6 separate regions of the Homo sapiens genome follow, and regions 1, 2, 4, 5 and 6 are each reported to be linked to region 3. The links are microRNA targets in miRTarBase. Many come from high-throughput screens and were not tested one by one. Region 3 holds a microRNA gene; each other region holds the end of a gene's coding sequence.
What was found. The annotated mature microRNA hsa-miR-410-3p reads AAUAUAACACAGAUGGCCUGU and lies in region 3 at 1,571-1,591, shown strand. An mRNA with a match to its seed (bases 2 to 7 or 8) in the 3' UTR can be bound and repressed. Matches are read on the target gene's strand: a 7mer-m8 pairs with bases 2 to 8, a 7mer-A1 pairs with bases 2 to 7 and ends in A, and an 8mer does both.

Region 1: the mRNA of HSPA14 is a reported target of hsa-miR-410-3p. The part of its 3' UTR that is shown has no 7-base or 8-base seed match.
Region 2: the mRNA of EIF2B1 is a reported target of hsa-miR-410-3p. Seed matches in the 3' UTR shown: 7mer-A1 at 1,761-1,767.
Region 4: the mRNA of EXOC8 is a reported target of hsa-miR-410-3p. Seed matches in the 3' UTR shown: 7mer-A1 at 582-588.
Region 5: miRTarBase lists GPR141 as a target of hsa-miR-410-3p. Seed matches in the 3' UTR shown: 7mer-A1 at 1,342-1,348, 7mer-A1 at 1,651-1,657 and 7mer-A1 at 2,480-2,486.
Region 6: the mRNA of DUSP8 is a reported target of hsa-miR-410-3p. Seed matches in the 3' UTR shown: 7mer-A1 at 489-495.

The regions. Positions count from the first base shown.
Region 1 is chr10:14,871,454-14,874,566 of GRCh38, forward strand. It overlaps HSPA14 (heat shock protein family A (Hsp70) member 14), which reads left to right. Exons shown (of 14, transcript NM_016299.4): 14 at 75-288. The coding sequence ends at 153. It also overlaps a transcript of SUV39H2-DT not described here. Among named protein-coding and RNA genes, the nearest start is that of SUV39H2-DT, 5.6 kb to the right of the region's middle.
Region 2 is chr12:123,619,316-123,622,389 of GRCh38, reverse strand. It overlaps EIF2B1 (eukaryotic translation initiation factor 2B subunit alpha), which reads left to right. Exons shown (of 9, transcript NM_001414.4): 9 at 470-1,984. The coding sequence ends at 634. It overlaps DDX55 (DEAD-box helicase 55), which reads right to left. Exons shown (of 14, transcript NM_020936.3): 13 at 2,666-2,958; 14 at 1,447-2,426. The coding sequence ends at 2,250. Among named protein-coding and RNA genes, the nearest start is that of SNORA9B, 4.1 kb to the right of the region's middle. RefSeq lists an enhancer at 1-1,013.
Region 3 is chr14:101,064,391-101,067,524 of GRCh38, forward strand. MIR410 (microRNA 410) reads left to right here and starts at 1,522; the gene lies at 1,522-1,601. MIR541 (microRNA 541) reads left to right here and starts at 105; the gene lies at 105-188. MIR409 (microRNA 409) reads left to right here and starts at 910; the gene lies at 910-988. MIR412 (microRNA 412) reads left to right here and starts at 1,057; the gene lies at 1,057-1,147. It also overlaps MIR369 and MIR656.
Region 4 is chr1:231,333,107-231,336,106 of GRCh38, reverse strand. EXOC8 (exocyst complex component 8) reads left to right here. Exons shown (of 1, transcript NM_175876.5): 1 at 1-3,000. The coding sequence ends at 539. Among named protein-coding and RNA genes, the nearest start is that of EXOC8, 3.2 kb to the left of the region's middle.
Region 5 is chr7:37,740,901-37,744,034 of GRCh38, forward strand. GPR141 (G protein-coupled receptor 141) reads left to right here. Exons shown (of 3, transcript NM_001381946.1): 3 at 1-2,935. The coding sequence ends at 411. Among named protein-coding and RNA genes, the nearest start is that of GPR141, 59 kb to the left of the region's middle.
Region 6 is chr11:1,553,817-1,556,950 of GRCh38, reverse strand. DUSP8 (dual specificity phosphatase 8) reads left to right here. Exons shown (of 7, transcript NM_004420.3): 7 at 1-2,900. The coding sequence ends at 433. LOC124902608 reads left to right here and starts at 1,471. Exons shown (of 2, transcript XM_047427956.1): 1 at 1,471-2,002; 2 at 2,271-2,344. The coding sequence starts at 1,471. The coding sequence ends at 2,344. RefSeq lists an enhancer at 787-1,584.

The DNA of each region.
Region 1 (3,113 bases), not on the chromosome of region 3:
AAGTAACTTGTTACAGACTTTATGTTTTTATAAAATGAGCTTGTGCAATGTTCTTTATTTTTTTGTCTGTTTAGGGATGGATCTTTACATGTGACATGCACAGATCAAGAAACTGGAAAATGTGAAGCAATCTCTATTGAGATAGCATCTTAGTGTTTTAGAGAAATCAAGAATTTTTAAAAACAAGAATATCAACATTTGGTTTTGTGTATAAGTGGTGTTTGTATTAAAATACTTTTTCAATGAACTGTATAAACTATGTTTTATTAAACTACAATATATCAGTAAGTGTTGCAACCCTTTGTTTTTGACGTACAGTAACCTCTTATTACTGGGAAATATAAGGAAGTTTTTTTTTTTTTTTATCATGAAGCTGTTTAGAATTAAACTGAGTTGGTTAAAGAATTTTCTATAACATTTAATTTGTAAAAGTCTTCTATTGATTCTTGTTAGATAACCAAGAGAACAATTAAAAGTCATTGACATTAATTGAAAAAAATTTCAGGACCACATAGAAAGTAAGATGCCTTTTTTTGTTGGTTTTTGTTTTTAGAGACAGGATTTTGCACTGCCACCGAGGCTCAAGTGCAGTGGTGGGATCATATCTCACAGCAGCCTCGAACTGCTGGGCTCAAGCAGTCTTCCTGCCTTAGCCTCCCTTGTAGCCGGGACTACAGATGTGCACCATCACACCTGGCAATTTTTTTTTTTTTTTTTTTTTTTTTGGAGAGACGGGTCTTGCTATGTTGCCCAGGATGGTCCCAAACTGCTGGTCTCAAGCAGTCCTCCCGCCTTAGCCCCACAAAGTGCTGGGATTACAGGCATAAGCGACAGCCATTTTTTAAGTAAACTGATAAACTCAACAACTAGGAGAGGGGCTTTTACTTTTTACAGTTTTGTTTAGTTTATTTCTTCCAACAAACATGTTTTTCTTTTGAAATTAAAAGATCTCTTTAGGGCTGGGCACGGTGGCTTACACCTGTAATTCCAGCACTTTGGGAGGCAGAGATGGGAGGATCACTTGAGGCTAGGAGTTCCAGACCAGCCTGGCCAACGTGGTGAAACCCCATCTCTACTAAAAATACAAAAAATTAGTTGGGCGTGGTGGTGTGCGCCTGTAGTCTTAGCAACTCCTGAGACTGAATCCCTTGATCCCAGGAGGCAGAGGTTGCAGTGAGCCGAGATCACGCCACTGCACTGCAGCCTGGGTGACAGAGTGATACTCCATCTCAAAAAAAGAAAAAAAAAATCTCTTTAGTTTGAAGAGAAGGCTAGCCACATTCTGTTTACCAGAGAATATTCACTAGAGCCCTGAGATCCTCAGTGGGTTCCAGTGAAAACTTATTCATGTTGGCTGCTATGGAGTTAGTTGGTAGTACCCTTCTAAAAGTTTTTAAAGATCCAGAAACCAAACTTAAATTTTTTCATCATTATTTTGCATCAAATTATTGACAGAACCATGAAGAGAATTCAGATATGATTTTAAGTCCACAGAGTCTTTAAATACAGAAGCAGCTTTAAAGGTGTACTCTTTGTCCTAAGTTATTAGTTATTTCTTAGGATCTTTTTCCAAAGTCATAGAAAATTTGAAATAAAAGTGATTTTGGTATAAGCAATTCAGTGGCTTCAGAACACAGGAAAACACCAACTGAACTAGTTCTACTGCTAGGTCTACATGCTTTCAATTATGCTTTGAAAAACTTTTAGGATTTTATTTTGTGGTTATTGTTAGCTTTTAAAATAGATCTGGGGTGCCAAACTATGGCCAGTGAGTCAGATCTATCTCACCCCTGTTTTCATAGATAAAATTTTATTAGAACACAGTCACACTCTAATTGTATATGGGCTGGCTGTGGCGGTTTTCACATTAGAGTGGCAGAGATGAATAGTTGCACAAAGGCTGTGTGGCCCACAAAGCTTAAAATATTTACTGTCTGGCCTTCTACATAAAAAATTTGACACCTAAAGTACATTATTGAAACTTATAGAATAAAATAACTTCTTCTAAAGTTTTCTGCTATATTTATGTAATGCTTTACTTATTGGCTCCTTTCCCCACTAGATTATTAAGCATTGTGAGAGCAGATACTCTCAGTCTTAGTCACCATTTTGCCTCAGCCCCTACAACAGTACGTGAGCATAGTGGGTGTTCCTAAGTGCTTATCAAATAAATGAATTATGTGGAAGAAAAAATAATGTCATGTTTGTATGCTACAGGACAATGGCCAGTGAGTAGTACATCTGTTGTATATTTTATGGTTTGTTTAGAAACATAAGGAAGGAAAGGAATAGCACTGCTGACTTTATTGGTCAGCTTTGCATGTTTGTTTGGTTGTTTTCCCCTAGACTTATCAAATTTGAAATTGTCATCAATAAGTCCTCTACTGCCTAATGAAATTCTTCCACATTTTTTCGTACCCTCAGGTGATAAGTTTTTTCCTTGTGAATTTTTGAAAGATTTGCTGACAAAATTTTCTAGTGTTTTTTTATTTTTCAAGGTGAAAATAGCTTTAAATTTTTTGTTTGTAAGAATGATACATAGTCAATATAAAATTCAAATTCCAAAAGAAAAAAATATAAAACATTCTTTATTCTACCATCCAGAATAGTAACTATAAAGATTTTTGGTGAGTACCTTGATAATCTTTTCATGTACATCCTAGTTATCTTTGTTATATGTATGTCGTAGCAAAGATAATTGGGATGTACATGAGATACATGCAATTTATACTCATGAAATGTAAATATATTTCATGAAGTTTAAATATGTATATATTTAAATGTGGGGAAAGTAGTCAAGTAAGTGAAGTATTACATAAATATGGAAGAAAAGTTTTGAAGAAGTCATTTTATTGTGGAAGTTTCAATAATCTACCTCGGGTCAAGTTTTTTATATAAAAGGCCAGATAGTAAATATATACATATTTAAACTTAAACACTTTTACCACTAAAAGCTTATGTCAAATTATAGTTTTGCCTATTTACATCTGACATTGTCTGAAGAACAGAGCCAAATATAAAAATAGGAAGAAATACCTATGATGTGAAAGTCTTGGAACGTGTCTTAGTTTGGACTGCTATAATAAAGTACCATAGTCTGGGGGGTGGCTTGT
Region 2 (3,074 bases), not on the chromosome of region 3:
TGGGCTTAACTGAGCTCAGCTCCCATCACCACAACTTACAAACTGTGCGAGTTGAGGCAAGTCCTTTCATTTCAACCTCTGAACCGGTTTTCTTGTCTGTAAAATGGCATAGCAGTATCTGACAGGGTCATGAGGATTCTAAGATAATCTTAGCACAGTCCCTGGCACGCTGCAAGCTCTCTATTGTGACTCTCGATCTTCCCTTGAGAGGTCTGGAGAAGTTAATCCGGCATGAGAATGAGGGGACATGGGATTTAAGTTTGTTACACTACAGCTCTCAGCCAGCACACTGCCATGATCTGGCTCATGGCCACAACTCTGCCCTCGTCTCTAGTGTCCTGCATAGCTTAGTTTCTCCCATTTTCAGAGAGCAGTCTCAGGAAGTAGCACACTGATCACTCACACCAAGGCCCTACCAGGTCAGAGCACTAAATATTCAGTGCCGACTAATGTGTACTTCTCTCCTCAGTATAAGGCAGACACTCTCAAGGTCGCGCAGACTGGACAAGACCTCAAAGAGGAGCATCCGTGGGTCGACTACACTGCCCCTTCCTTAATCACTCTGCTGTTTACAGACCTGGGCGTGCTGACACCCTCAGCAGTCAGCGATGAGCTCATCAAGCTCTATCTGTAACCTGTGAGCCCTTTCCTGCCAAGGTGCAGCTTACGTAGTTGAGGCAGGGTGAGTAGCTGCTTGACACCCCAGTGAGTCAGGCCAAAACTGAGATGTGTTTAATGAAGATTTATGGAGTAAGGACTTAAAATCATACATCTTGGAGAACCTTTCTTACTCATTTCAGTCCCATCTAAAAATGTGTCAGCTATTCTAAATCCCAACTTAAATTGTTCTTACGGTTTCTAGAAACTTTCCTTTTCAGTTTCCAGAAATACAAGTTAGATAATTGGCTACTTAACTGATGAAAGATGAGCCCAAGTCCACCTGTCTTCATCCTCCCCTGCACTCCAGACTGATCTGCCTAAAGCACGCGAGATGCAGGCGAAAAGCAGCCACACCCCTCTGCCACAAATGACCAACAGCTGGTCAGGACGTTACACGCGGTGCCTTGTAAGAGGCAAGAAACACTTGCTGAATCTGCATCTGGCTTCCAGTGGTAAGCACATTCCTCAGCAGGATCAAGCCAAACAGTAAAAACTACCAAGAGAACACGAGGAAGGCAGAAACGATGTTTAGCAACAGTATTCTGCATGGTTCACTGCTTAAGAAAATGCCTTCTGGAATATTTGTAAACTGAAATTCTGTATGTGTAAGAGATGTTTAAATATGTTTGGGTCCTAAACAGCTTTTTAAAATTATACTTGGGAATAAATTCAGCATCTTTTCAAATAAACTCTATGAAAGACGCTGATGTGGTGTTGCATCAATACTGCAAGCTGACCAGGCCATCTAGGGGAAAACACTGTCCAGCTACATTTACACACTTAAGACCCAGGCAATCAGGACACCATTTATTCAACAGGAGGCATAAAAACTATAATTCTCTTTCCCGGAATATGACTTAATCCCTCTGTTTTTCAGCTATTCACCAATAAAACAATACTGTGACTATTAACACAGAAAAACCCCAGCACATTAGCCACCCCTGCAGGACATCAAAGGATAACTGAAGCCCAGGGCCAAGCACATTCAGGAGGTCAAATGCCTGAAGATACTGAGGAATGGTTTTGAAAATCAGAAGTCAAGAAGACTTCTGTATCTTTATGTTTAAAAATAACTATAAAATAGCCTCAGAAAAAAGAGCTTATATATATATATATATATATATATATATATATATATATATATATATAATATGTACATATGTCTATATGTGACCCATCATGATAAATACTGACATCTATTATTTACACTCAAATAATTTTACATTTTCTTCTGTTAGACTACTCCAAGACTGGAATTGTTTTGTTTTGTTGTTTTTAATGAGAGGGTCTCGCTGTGTTCCCAGGCTGGTCTTGAACTCCTGGGCTCAAGTGATCCTCCTGCCTCAGCCTCCCAAAGTGCTGGGATTATAGGCAGGAGCCACCGCACCCGGCCAAGACTGGAATGTTTTTAGTAAAATATTCTGAAGTGTGAAATCCTTCATTTCTCCCTCATCTGAAAGGACAGCTTTCAGAGACATCATTCTTTTCAGATGTCTCCTGAAGTTGTGATTTTCGTTAAAAGCAAACTGGAGCCATCCACCAAGTTAGGGAACAGCTATGTCCTTGTGGGTTCATCTGTGGCACTGGAATCAGCAGTCATCTTCCAAATCTGAGATCCCTAAATCCACTGTCTTGATTGTTCTTTTGCCAGTTGTCAACAAGCCCTTCTCAAATTCTTCTTCAGTTATTTTGCCTTTCTTAAGTTTTTTCAAGAGTCTTGTGTCATTAAGAAGTTCTTCCATGTCCTCATCTTCAATATCAGAACCCTAAGTGCAGAAGAAACCAATAAACTACTAAATTTTTCAGCAATAGTGTTGTAGTGAAACCAGCAGTTTTAACTCAAGAACTATAAGCTCTCAGATTGGCTTCTGCAAATAGAGCAAATTCCCCACCCTGGTCGCCAACGTAACAGAAATCTGACAGCCCCACACAATTCCTATTTAAAGAACTACTACAATAAATTTGTTCAAGATTCTAAGTTAATGTAAGTAAAAGTAAACTTTACCTCTTCCCTTTTCCTTTTCTCATTCATTTTTTTCTTCTTTTCTTTTTTGGCCTTCTGCTTTGACCAAGCTTTATTTTTTATGAATTTTCTTCTCCCTTCATTTTCTGTTTTCTCTCTTCTTTGTTGCTCCAGGAGTTTCTGCCTCTGCTTTTCTCTGATTTTATCTTTAAATGGAATCGTGTCGGTATTAACGTCCACGGGCACAAAATCTGGAAACTGCTTTCCTCTCAATTCTGGCATCTTGGGCATCCTCAGCAGGGCAAAACCTCGAGCAAGGCTGGCAAAATCAAGATCTGATTCAATCAGAAGATCAGAGTTAGCGCACTCAACAGGATTAGAACAATCAGTAATGGCTTACAATATAATTTTTTTCTAACCAAAGGGTTTAATGCATTCATTTTAGTTAGAA
Region 3 (3,134 bases):
GGAAGTCGTCTGTGACATCTTTTCTTTCTTTACAGCAGGCCTCGCATGGCTGGCCTCTTGCTCCACTTGTAGCAAGGCGCAGAGGGCTCTCTGAGCTCATGCCAACGTCAGGGAAAGGATTCTGCTGTCGGTCCCACTCCAAAGTTCACAGAATGGGTGGTGGGCACAGAATCTGGACTCTGCTTGTGGCATCCATCGTCTGGCCCGATGCTTGCTGGCTGCCCGCTCCAGGAGGCACCTTCTGGGTGTTCTCTGAGTCTGGGGAAGGTTGGGTTCTGAGGTCAGGGCTGCCCTGACCCTTGTGAAGAGAAGACATCTGTGACTCACCTGCTTTCTTCTGCTGCATTTATCCCCCCAGTCCCTTATTTTGAATGTCTCACTTGCTTTATGAGGCTAATCAGATGGTCAGCCAGCTGTTGATAACTGTGAAGTTACTCTTTGAGGGATCCTGGGGTGATGCCTCTGTGGGCTGGAGATGGTGCTGGTGAGACCGCAGGTCTGGGGTCAGCGTTGTGCCCCGTTGAGCTCCCGCCAAAGGAATCCTCTGCTGGGAGGGAGGCTCTGTGCTTGTGCAGGGGTCCCTACAGGGTCACCCCCTCTCAGGGTCTGGGAATGAAAAGCGGGTGCGAGCAGGGTTTCATTTTCATCTTTAGCAAGGTGCCCAAGGAAGGTTGCCGTCTTTTCAGTATAAGATCCTACCTGGGTCTTGCACTCAACTTCTGGGAAGAGTCTCTAGATTCATTCTGGAAGGGGTTGGAATCGTTGGACTTGGTGATTGGGAACGTCCTTGGAGAGTGTGAGGCTCTGGGCTCTGAATGCCCAGACCTTGTGCTGCCCTTGGGGGAGGGTCTTCTGCAAGCACAGCCGCCTGCAAGCATTCACCTTAGTCCGAGCATCTGAGCCTCTCCATGGTACTCGGGGAGAGGTTACCCGAGCAACTTTGCATCTGGACGACGAATGTTGCTCGGTGAACCCCTTTTCGGTATCAAATTCCACCAGGGAGGCCGTCTTGGAGGCTGGGGCACCTCGGGGAAGGACGCCGGCATCAGCACCATTCTGGGGTACGGGGATGGATGGTCGACCAGTTGGAAAGTAATTGTTTCTAATGTACTTCACCTGGTCCACTAGCCGTCCGTATCCGCTGCAGCCTGTGGGGCCTGCGGGCCGGGGAGCCGATCGCGCTTCAGCTCAGCGCCTTTCCTGGTACTTGAAGGGAGATCGACCGTGTTATATTCGCTTTATTGACTTCGAATAATACATGGTTGATCTTTTCTCAGTATCAAATCTCACCTTGGAGGACCCGTTGGAGATGAAGCCCTTTTGAGGGTAGGAGCAGGACGGGTGCTTTGGAGTCGCTGCCTCAGTGGGGCCTGGTCACCGAGAGTGGGCCGGGCAGGGGTCTCTTTCCTGTCTCTGTGTCTTCTCACCTTTGATGTCCCATCCGTCCTCAGGACTGCTTCCCGGGGGCAGCGCTGGCACCACGGGACGCGGCAGCCACGTTCTTGAGCCGATGGCACTCTGGGTACCTGAGAAGAGGTTGTCTGTGATGAGTTCGCTTTTATTAATGACGAATATAACACAGATGGCCTGTTTTCAGTACCGCTACCGCCCGGTGGTGTGCGGGCGCCACGCCTGAGGCGGGACTTTCCAGGGTACGTGAATGCATGGGCTGGTGTGACATTTGTCATCCTTTCCCCTGACCCCCGCCATTGAATCATTTTGGGAGAGCTTTCGGGGGGCCATGTGGACTTTGGGGAAGATGCTAGGGTTGTGCACTGTGGTGGGGGGCGGTCATGAAGCTGATGAGCAATGGTGACGGGGCTCAGTCTGTTTTTCATGGCCAGTGTCATCGAGGCAGAGGACACGGGGGAGCTAGTCCCGCTGGAAGGCATCCTGCTGGAAGGCCACCCACCCCTCGCCAGGATGTTGGGGGCGGCTGCATGCATTCCCTGCACCTGGGCTGCCTTCTGCTCATCTCAGTGCTGTGAGACCCTGGGTGGGAGCTGGTGCCTTGGGTGGCCGTGTGCGTGTGCTGCTCCTTGTGGTGCCTGAGGAGAGGTGGCCTGTGTTGCATTCACAGAAATCATGACACACAAGACACGAGCGGCCTCTCTTCAGTATCAGATCCCACCTGCATGATTCCTGCACCTGCTGATGTCGGGGAGGTCCGGTTGCGCGCCCTGTGGGCCCCCAGAGGCATGGCTGGTGGCCGAGCACGCGCTTGACTTCCACCTGCAGCCCTGTGCTGGCCTCCATCCTGGAGGCGGGTGGGTGGCAGGGCCCTTCCCTGTGGAAGAAGCCTCCTCCCTGGAGTCAGTGCTGCTCAGTGGTACCTGAAATAGGTTGCCTGTGAGGTGTTCACTTTCTATATGATGAATATTATACAGTCAACCTCTTTCCGATATCGAATCCCACCTTGGATGCCTTCCTCTTTGCTGTCAACTCCAGGCAGCAGCTGGCTCTGCGCTGGTTGACCCTGTGGACTTTGTGTAGGACCTGTGTCACTTGGCCTGTTAATTTTCCAGCTCCACTCTGTTCTGGGGGGCTTTGGAAGTGTGACAGAATGGCATCCCCAATTCCAGTGTCAGCGGGAGCACCCGCCATGCCCTTGCTTCCGGTTGGCACATCCCCCAGGCTGGGCTGGCTCTCAGCTACCCGATGCTTATGTCATATTTGCACCCCTGGCCTGCCCAGACTACAGGAAGATGACCAGAGGCCTGTTTGCAGCTGACCTGGAGACTTAGTGACTCCAGAACATGCTGCCCATGCCCAGGGTCCAGGGCTGAAGGCAAGGAGCACCTCAGGAGTGACCCCAAAGAATGAGCTAAGGCTGTCCTTTATCACTCATTGTTGATCAGTGAGCTCCTGGGCTCGGGAGATCTTCCTGAGCTGGGCTCCCGTCATCCCCTAGTTGAGACGTCGCTGCCTTGGAAGTCACAGCCTGTGCCTGCCCTCCCCCTTGTCCTCCTCCTCGGGACCGCTCCTCTCCATGCCTAGCATGGGAGTGGGGATCCCTGGCACCATCCCTCTGGGCTGCCTGCTCCCACTCTCCCTCAGCACCCCTCTTCCCCAGCCCCTGGGCCACAGCCCTGCTGGAGAGGCCGCCCCACAGGCTAGGTCCCTCCAGCCTGTGG
Region 4 (3,000 bases), not on the chromosome of region 3:
TGGTGAAAGACATCCAAGGGGCCTTGCACAGTTACAAAGAAATCATCATTGAAGCCACTAAACATCGCAACTCTGAAGAGATGTGGAGGAGGATGAACTTGATGACGCCAGAAGCCCTGGGTAAGCTCAAAGAAGAGATGAAAAGTTGTGGGGTAAGTAACTTTGAGCAGTACACAGGGGATGACTGCTGGGTGAACCTAAGTTACACAGTGGTTGCTTTCACCAAACAGACCATGGGCTTCTTGGAAGAGGCCCTGAAGCTGTATTTCCCAGAGCTGCACATGGTACTTTTGGAGAGCCTGGTGGAAATCATTTTGGTTGCTGTTCAGCATGTGGATTATAGTCTTCGATGTGAGCAGGATCCAGAGAAGAAAGCTTTTATCAGACAGAATGCATCCTTTTTATATGAAACAGTCCTCCCTGTGGTGGAGAAAAGGTTTGAAGAAGGTGTGGGGAAACCTGCCAAGCAACTCCAAGATCTGAGGAATGCATCTAGACTTATTCGTGTGAATCCTGAAAGTACAACATCAGTGGTCTAATGCTTGGGTCTGTTTATATGTGTATATATGCAGAGAGAGAGCTTATATATTATTTATATTTATATTAAGTTGTATTAGCATACTCTATAGTTTCAAACACAACTTGAAAATTAAAAGTGCCCTCTTAAAAATACAAAAATCAAAAAGAGGAAAATAAGTTAAATTAAGCCCAAGTAACAAAAATACTGGAATTATTAAAACGTATAGTATGCTAGCTATCCTTTTAAATTATGCTAATTCTCTTCTTCTGAAATTATGGTCACACTATATACTATAGCATTTCGGTTTTATCCTTTGATAAAACTTTTCTTTTTTCTTTTTTTTTTTTGAGACAGGGTCTCACCCCGTCGCACAGGCTGGAGTGCAGTGGCAAAGTCTCGACTCACTGCAGCCTTGACCTCCCGGGCCCAGGTAGTCCTCCCACCTCAGCCTCCCATGTAGCAGGAACCACAGGCAGGCACCACCATACCCAGCTAATTTTTGTATTTTTTGTAGAGATGGGGTTTCGCCATGTTGCCCAGGCTAGTCTTTTCTTTCTTCTTTTTTTTTTTCCCCACAGTATATATTATACAGCAGTCATAATATCTATAAATACATAGAGTTTATGTTGTGAAGTTTCCCAGTTCACTGAAATGTTAGGTTTCCTAAAGGGTACAGTGCCGTATAAAACAACCTGCCTCATATATTTCTCCTCAAAACGTTGGACTATTTGGGAAAAGGAAAAGAGTTGGGAAAATTGGTTTTAAGGTAAGTTTTAGTCAAAAGAATTCTTTCTTGAAACTAGCTGGTTTGTGGATTCAGATACTCTGATCCTTACAGAATCCAAGAGGAAGCTTTCATAAAAACAATTCAGCAAATATTTCCAATATAATTTGAATGGCTAATTTTCAGTTGCTAATTAATTAGCAGCTTTGTAATACTTGATTTGGGAGCATTTACTTGGAAATCCTAAGGACTATAATAAAAGTTTTCAACATATTTCTAAATTGTGTGAGTTTCCAGCTGTAGCTTTTGTCTTTGTCACATTTTAAAAAATAATAAGCAAGACACATTGGGGACACTGGCAGCAGTTGCCAGGTTTTAGCTGCCACCGCTTCAGTATGAGATATAGCTGTCCCATCTTCCCCCATTCAGGGTAGGAGATATAGTGACCCAGACTTCATGCAAATGGAAAAAAAGTTTTAACTGAAATATTTATTTAGATTTCAGGGTCTAGATGGATGGGAAAGTAGAAAAACATATGCAAATCTCAGTGTTCTCACTATGACCACTCTGAGCAGAGATTTGGTTTTGTTTCCTTTTGTAACAAAGTGAAAACAGGTGAGACAATGTGCCCAAAACAAAGGGAAGAAGAGAACCTTCTGTGACTCCTAAAATGTTCCATGCTGCATTTTTGTTTCATTTTTTATTTTTCCTTGCTTTGTTTTTAAACATGAATATAATGCTTACTTCAAATTGTTTAGTAAAACAAAATAACTAAAGAAATGTGAGCTTCCCAAGGTTTCTAAACTATCGCTGTTGTATATTCTATAGCGTTCCTTATTCTTTGAGGGAAACTGTGCTTGCTGTGATCCATTTTGTCTCTAGCTTCTAGTTGTGATTCTTGTCCATAAGCACCAAATTTGATGCCCATGATTTCAAAAGGTCATTTCTTTTATCTGAATGAAAATGGTGGTACTAAGACTGTGAAAATTATGTGAAACCTAAAGTAGTTGCCAAAGTGGCTCAGGGTTGTAAAATTCATTGACTTAATTATTCATGTGCCAGATCAACCCCTTTATTTTCTCTTTAGCTGTGCATATTTAAAATATTGGAAAGTATCAGATTTACAGATTTTCTTTGACTAATTTTTTTCACATAACTTTAGGATTTTCGAAAGTTGTAACCATAACTGGATATCTTAGCTGAGCAAAGGCGGTTATAATTTGTCTTTTTAAGATCACTGGAAATTGATAAAATTTTGTGATAATTATGATTATTCTGTGCCATTTACAGTTTCTAATACTATACTGTATGAAATATGTATAAATATATGATGCTGAGTCTGTGGAATGATACTTCTGAAATCAAAATTCCTCATAAGGCATGAAGTTGTAAAAACTTGAATGTGTATAGTTAGATATTTAAATGGTTGCTTCTTCATAGAATTGTCTGCTTTTTAAAACTGGAAGTACAGGATTTTCTTCAGGTAAAATCTGTGTGTTCCAATTACAGTTGTAGCTGAAGGAAGTATGCTTTGGTGAGTCAATTAGTATGGGAACTTGACTAAAGACCCCCAGTGTTGTAACGTACCTTTGTACCCAGACAAAACAATTATGTTACATTCCTCAAAGTGGCATGGGCTTTCTTCTCTAATTCTTCTGTTTTATTAGACCCAAGACAAGTTCTAAAAATTGAATGCAATGAGAGATTGTCCAGAAATGTAATATATACTAAAATATACCACTTAAGCATTGATTGC
Region 5 (3,134 bases), not on the chromosome of region 3:
CACAAAGAGCTTGCTTACACATATGTGAAAATCATCAACTATATGATAGTCATTTTTGTCATAGCCGTTGCTGTGATTCTGTTGGTCTTCCAGGTCTTCATCATTATGTTGATGGTGCAGAAGCTACGCCACTCTTTACTATCCCACCAGGAGTTCTGGGCTCAGCTGAAAAACCTATTTTTTATAGGGGTCATCCTTGTTTGTTTCCTTCCCTACCAGTTCTTTAGGATCTATTACTTGAATGTTGTGACGCATTCCAATGCCTGTAACAGCAAGGTTGCATTTTATAACGAAATCTTCTTGAGTGTAACAGCAATTAGCTGCTATGATTTGCTTCTCTTTGTCTTTGGGGGAAGCCATTGGTTTAAGCAAAAGATAATTGGCTTATGGAATTGTGTTTTGTGCCGTTAGCCACAAACTACAGTATTCATATTTGCTTCCTTTATATTGGGAATAAAAATGGGTATAGGGGAGGTAAGAATGGTATTTCATTACTTGATCAAAACCATGCCTTGATGTACCCAAAACAAAAGGACTATAAAATGCAAGAGCCCTCATTGTAGTCCTTATGGGATCCCTCCCATCTCTGAGTGATGGCCGTACAAAGACCAGTGTTGTTGAATCCACCTGGAGTTGCAATATTACATTATTTTCCAGTACAGAATGTCTGTGTGGCCCATGAAAGCAACATAGGTTTTAAGAGTTTTAGAGTTTCATTAGCTCATTCTAAGTTCCTCTGTTTGAAGCATGGTCTCTTAGGTTTTGGACTGAACTCAGACCTTTAGTTCTTTTCATCCCACTTCACCTTAGGTAAGTAAATTCTGGCCACCACCCAGCTCCAAAGACACAAACTCTCCTTCGCTAACCAGGTTAGATGTCCCATTCATCTCATGCCCTGATAAAAACTGATAAGGGGAGAGAATAGTTAAAAATTTTTCTAGGGTATCATAACTCTGGTAGGAAGTCATCTGTCTAGAAATCAAGAGAAAAAGAACGTGTGGCCTCCTGTTATAACAAGGGTTTCTAGATTTGTCCTGTGAAAGGTCGTTTAAGGACTTGGGGATCAACTTCCTCAATTATCACCAATTGCACTGTTGCTCCAAAAATCATTTAAAAGCTTACTGGACATATCTACATAATGGTGAAACTGTAATTTAGAGACTATCCCTGACTAATGTGCTGGTAGGCATTAAAATGAGTTCCCAAGGGAAGTGATTAAAATTTTTTTCTCTTCTGTTTTTTGAGAGAATTTCTAGATGTCCTGGGCCACAGTTAATTAAGATTTTTAGGGGGGACAGAAAGTTATACTGAAATCTTTAGAGCTCCCTTCCGCCGTTAAAATTATATATATATATATTTAAATTATACCTTAAGTTCTGGGGTACATGTGCAGAATGTGCAGGTTTGTTACATAGGTATACACGTGCCATGGTGGTTTGCGGCACCTGTCAACCCATCTACATTAGGTATTTCTCCTAATGCTCTCCCTCCCCTAGCCCCCCACCCCTGGACAGGCCCCATTGTGTGATGTTCCCCTCCCTGTGTCCATGTGTTTTCATTGTTCAACTCCCACTTCTAAGTGAGAACATGCGGTGTTTGGTTTTCTGTTCCTGTGTTAGTTTGCTGAGAATGATGGTTTCCAGGTTAAAATTATATATTTTTAAATAAATGAAAACTGTGTTTTTAAAAGAGGACTTTTGAGAAGTATATAGAAAAACCATTAATTTAGACTCTGTGAGATTAGGTTGCATGAAGAAGGTTTTCTGAATATTTGAAGAGTGGATAAATAAATGTCCCCCAAAGCAATAAAATCATAATCCTTTAAAATATAGGAAAAATAACTAATGGGAACTAGGCTTAATACTCGGGATGAAATAATCTGTACAACAAACTCCCATGACACATGTTTACCTATGTAACAAACCTGCACATGTACCCCTGAACTTAAAATAAAATTTAAAGTAATAATAATAAAATAATATGGATTTTCTTTCCAAATTCGGAATTACTTTTTGTAAAATTGTATTAATAACTTGTGGCATGTGGCACGTTAAACTGATTTTATTTCAAGAACTTCTGTTACTGGCTAGGTTGATACATAGGCTTGTGGGTTTTTGCTTTTTGGGTTTTTTTTGCTCCTGCCCATACTTCCAGTGTCTTCAGTGTTTTATCTTAAAATTTTCCCAGGATCTGATCCAGTTTCATATTTAATGCTGCAGAAAACCTGAAGTGATTAGTAACATGAATAGAATAACAGAATGAATTAAGGGAACTTTTTTTTTCATCAAGGTATATCTTCGGGATTTAAAAGTTTTTCATAATTTATTATCACTGTGGATCCACAAATTCCTCAGATGAATAAGAAATACCTCTGTGAATTTCTGTGACCACTAAAATTACTGAGCCACAGAAATTAATTCTGAGGAAGCAGAAGTAGCAACATAGTTCAAACATGACTTGTTTCCATATATTTTCTGTTTTATATATTCTTTTAAATATCCTTTTAAACAAGTAATATTTCTTTTCTTTCTTGCCTTTTTTCCCATTTATTTTTTACATTTTTTCTTTCTCATTTTGAACCATAAAATTTGTAAGACCGTTACTAAGACCCCTGATAGTTTTAAGAAAATTTATAATACCTATAAATATGTAAAAAAAATTTAGAAAAATATTTAAATTAAAAGTATTCATGAGAATTTCATTACCTTGTAGATTATGTCATACTCTTTTCCAGATTTTAGATATGTTGAGGTCAGGCAATTCAAAAGAATTAATCTCTGTATTAATCTGTTATAATGTTAACATAACACTATGTTATTTTCATATATTATAATAACAGGCTTATTAGAAATGTTCTCAAAAGATAGAAATGCAATATTTCATAATATAAAATATCTTTTTCATCAGTATTTATGGAATAAATAGAAAAATTTTAGTTTTCCTGTTCTTTGTCTTGAATCAATACAGAAATGAACCTCATGTGACATTGGGAGTGACATTGGCCTCTAGGGCCATTTTTGGATATCACCATTATAAGAGAGCACTAGTATTAGCATTTGGTGGTGGGAGCCAAGGAATAGACATCTTGCCTTGCACATAATTGTCTGTACAATAAAGAAGTATCAGGTCTTGCT
Region 6 (3,134 bases), not on the chromosome of region 3:
GACTCCGCGGCACGGCCTCTCGGCCCTGTCGGCGCCCGGGCTGCCCGGCCCTGGCCAGCCGGCCGGCCCCGGGGCCTGGGCACCGCCGCTCGACTCCCCAGGCACGCCGTCGCCCGACGGGCCCTGGTGCTTCAGCCCCGAGGGCGCACAGGGGGCGGGCGGGGTGCTGTTTGCGCCCTTCGGCCGGGCGGGCGCCCCGGGACCAGGCGGCGGCAGCGACCTGCGGCGGCGGGAGGCAGCGAGGGCTGAGCCCCGGGACGCGCGGACCGGCTGGCCCGAGGAGCCGGCCCCGGAGACGCAGTTCAAGCGCCGCAGCTGCCAGATGGAGTTCGAGGAGGGCATGGTGGAGGGGCGCGCGCGCGGCGAGGAGCTGGCCGCCCTGGGCAAGCAGGCGAGCTTCTCGGGCAGCGTGGAGGTCATCGAGGTGTCCTGACCCCTCCGCTGCCCTCGGCCCCGCCGCCCGCAGCCAGGCCCGTTATAAATGTATATTATATATAATGCAAAGAAAGGTAAATGGTTTTACTGGGATTTTTATCGAGAAGTAAATATTTCGATTTTTTATTTATTTAAGCTGTTCATTCTGGCAATGATTTGGCAACAGTGCGGGTGGTCCTCGAGCTCTATTTTTACTGTCTGGTATTTAAACTGAAACATACGTTTCTAAGCAATACGAGGCCACCTTCAGTCGCAAGCTGGGTGCCAGGCCTGGGGCCCCTCCCAGTTCCCCCGCCCCAGGAAACACTGCTGACCTTTGCAAAGGCTGCCGAGCTTTCGTGCACTTTTTACATAACAAAAAGGTGAAAAAAAGGAAAAAAAAACTTCTTTGCCACAAACTGAGCCGCAGAACCCCCCTTCTCCCCCCACCCACCTCCCCTGCTCCCTCCCTTCTCTGCGCCGGCCTAGGGCTCTGCACCAAAGCCATAGGATGGAGGAGCAGGAGCTGGTGTGCCCCGGAGAGGTGCGGCCAGCCCTCCATCAGCTCCAGGCACCAAATCTTGGTGGCAAGGAGGGCACCCCGCTGCCCGTTGCCCCAGAGCTGTTCTCTGGCAGGGGAGGACAGGCATTGGGCTTCATGGTGCCAGGGTGTTCAGAGGGGCTGAGAAATAGAACAGTGTGTGTAGGGGCTTCGGGCAGGGGGTTCTGGAACGTCAGATGAGGTGCAGCCCAGGGGAGGACAGAGGTGTTAGTGCCCCCAACTCCTGCCAGAGCCCCAGTCCAGCCACAGAGTGGCTCAGAAAGGCCATTCCTAGAGGGCTGCGGCCCTCCCTTCTCCCTTGCCCATGCCCCCAGAGCTGCCTGCCGGGCAGGGTGGCACCATTGCAGGAGAGGAGCTTGGCCTCCGGGGGTCAGGCAGGAGGCGCCTGGCTAGCCAGTGCTGGCTCCACTGGGCAGGAAGCCCTGGACCCCCAGGTATGAGGAGGGGGTGGTCTTAGGGTTCTGTTCCAGGTCTGCCCCGCCCCCCTCCCAGCCATGCCCCAGGCAGAACTTGGAATTCAGGTGTGCACCTGCAGGCTGAGGGGCTCTGTGAGCAGGTGCTGCTCACACAGGGAGTTCAGGCGCCAGCCAAGCCCCTGTGCTGCTGGGATAGGCCTGCTTCACTTAGGGAGCACTGCCTCAAGACAGGTAAAGCCCCCTCGTTTGCCCCCACCCCCATGGGGCCGCTCAGGAGAGAAACTCCCATTCACCCCTTTCCCAGGGTGCTCTCTCTCTAGGTGGCATGCCAGCCCCCAAACACAAGTGGCTTTTGGGCCCAGGTGGGTCAGCCTGCTGCCCCTGCCCCATACCCCCTCGGGCCATTGGGACCCCTGCCCTTCAGATGTCCTAGGGTCTAGGAGTGGGGCCAGTCACTGTGGGAAGAGGCCAGGGGCTTGGCCGGAGAGGCAGCCCAGGGCAGGACCCAGTCCTGAGTCCTGGAGCAGGGCCAGGGAGGCGCCCATCCCGCCCCAGCCAGCCGCCCTCTCTGCTGTTTCTTCTATTTGTTCTTCTTTTCACCCACAGCTCTGTGTTCCTGTCATCCCTCCTTTCAGCAAAAGTCCTGTTCCCGTTCCCTCTGTCCCCACCCACTCCTGTTCCCCCAAGAAAATAAGCTATCGTTGTATTTGCAATCTATGGATTAGAGGTTTAAGTATTTATTATTATTGGTTAATTATTATTAATTATGTAAATTTGCCTCCCATATGTCTGTTGCGTTGGGTTTCTGAGGAGACCCTGGGTGAGGAGGATGCACTGGCTTCCCGCTTCTCGCCCCCCACCCCTGTGCTGTCCGGGAGACAGTGGTCTGGGGCCACTGGTTGGGCCCCCTTCTCCCTTCCCCCTTCCCCTTGTCCCTTCTGCAGGCCGTTGAGGGGGGCTGTCTGTCTCAGTCTGTCTCTGCTCCCACTCTTGAGGCACTGGTTACCGCAAAGTGAGCAGCCAGCAGGGGGGCGAAGGTCCTGTGTTGGCCACTGCCTCCTCCAGTGCTGCAGGAGGCGGGCTGAGGCCCCACCTGGTGGCTTTCACCTGACCCAGCCCTGAGTCCTCTCCAAGCCTCTCTCCGGCCCCTCCCACCTGGCCACTGCCTCCTCCAGTGCTGCGGGAGGCGGGCCAGGGCCCCACCTGGTGGCTTTCACCTGACCCAGCCCTGAGTCCTCTCCAAGCCTCTCTCCGGCCCCTCCCACCTGGCCACTGCCTGGCATTGGGATCGCCCCAAAATGGACCCGGCCCCTCCTGTTATTTGCTGGGAAGTCCAGCGGAGGAGAGGGTGCAGGTCCCCCGCTGAGCCTCCAGTCTCTGTAGACTGGGCTGCCGGCCCTTCAGCCCCCCTTGGAGCCCCTCCCGCCACAGCCGCACCTTCTGCTCCCGGCCCCTCCCTTTGTATTTGGAGACAATGTGTTGTAATAAAGCTTAAAGTGGATGTTTTCCCCACGACTCCGCGCCTCTTCCTTCAGACTGGTGGTGGGCAGGGTGGGGGCAGAGGCTGCTGGGAGGCAGGCCTGAGGCCAGAGCCTGGTGTGTTGGGTCTGGAAACTTGCCCCAGGCTCACACCGCGGGTGAGCTCTGAGAATAGTCCCTGGGGGCCAGGCATGGGCACAGGTCCTCAGCTGCACCTTTAGGGTGTAAAACACACTTTTTCAGTTGTTACAGGCTAGTAAAAG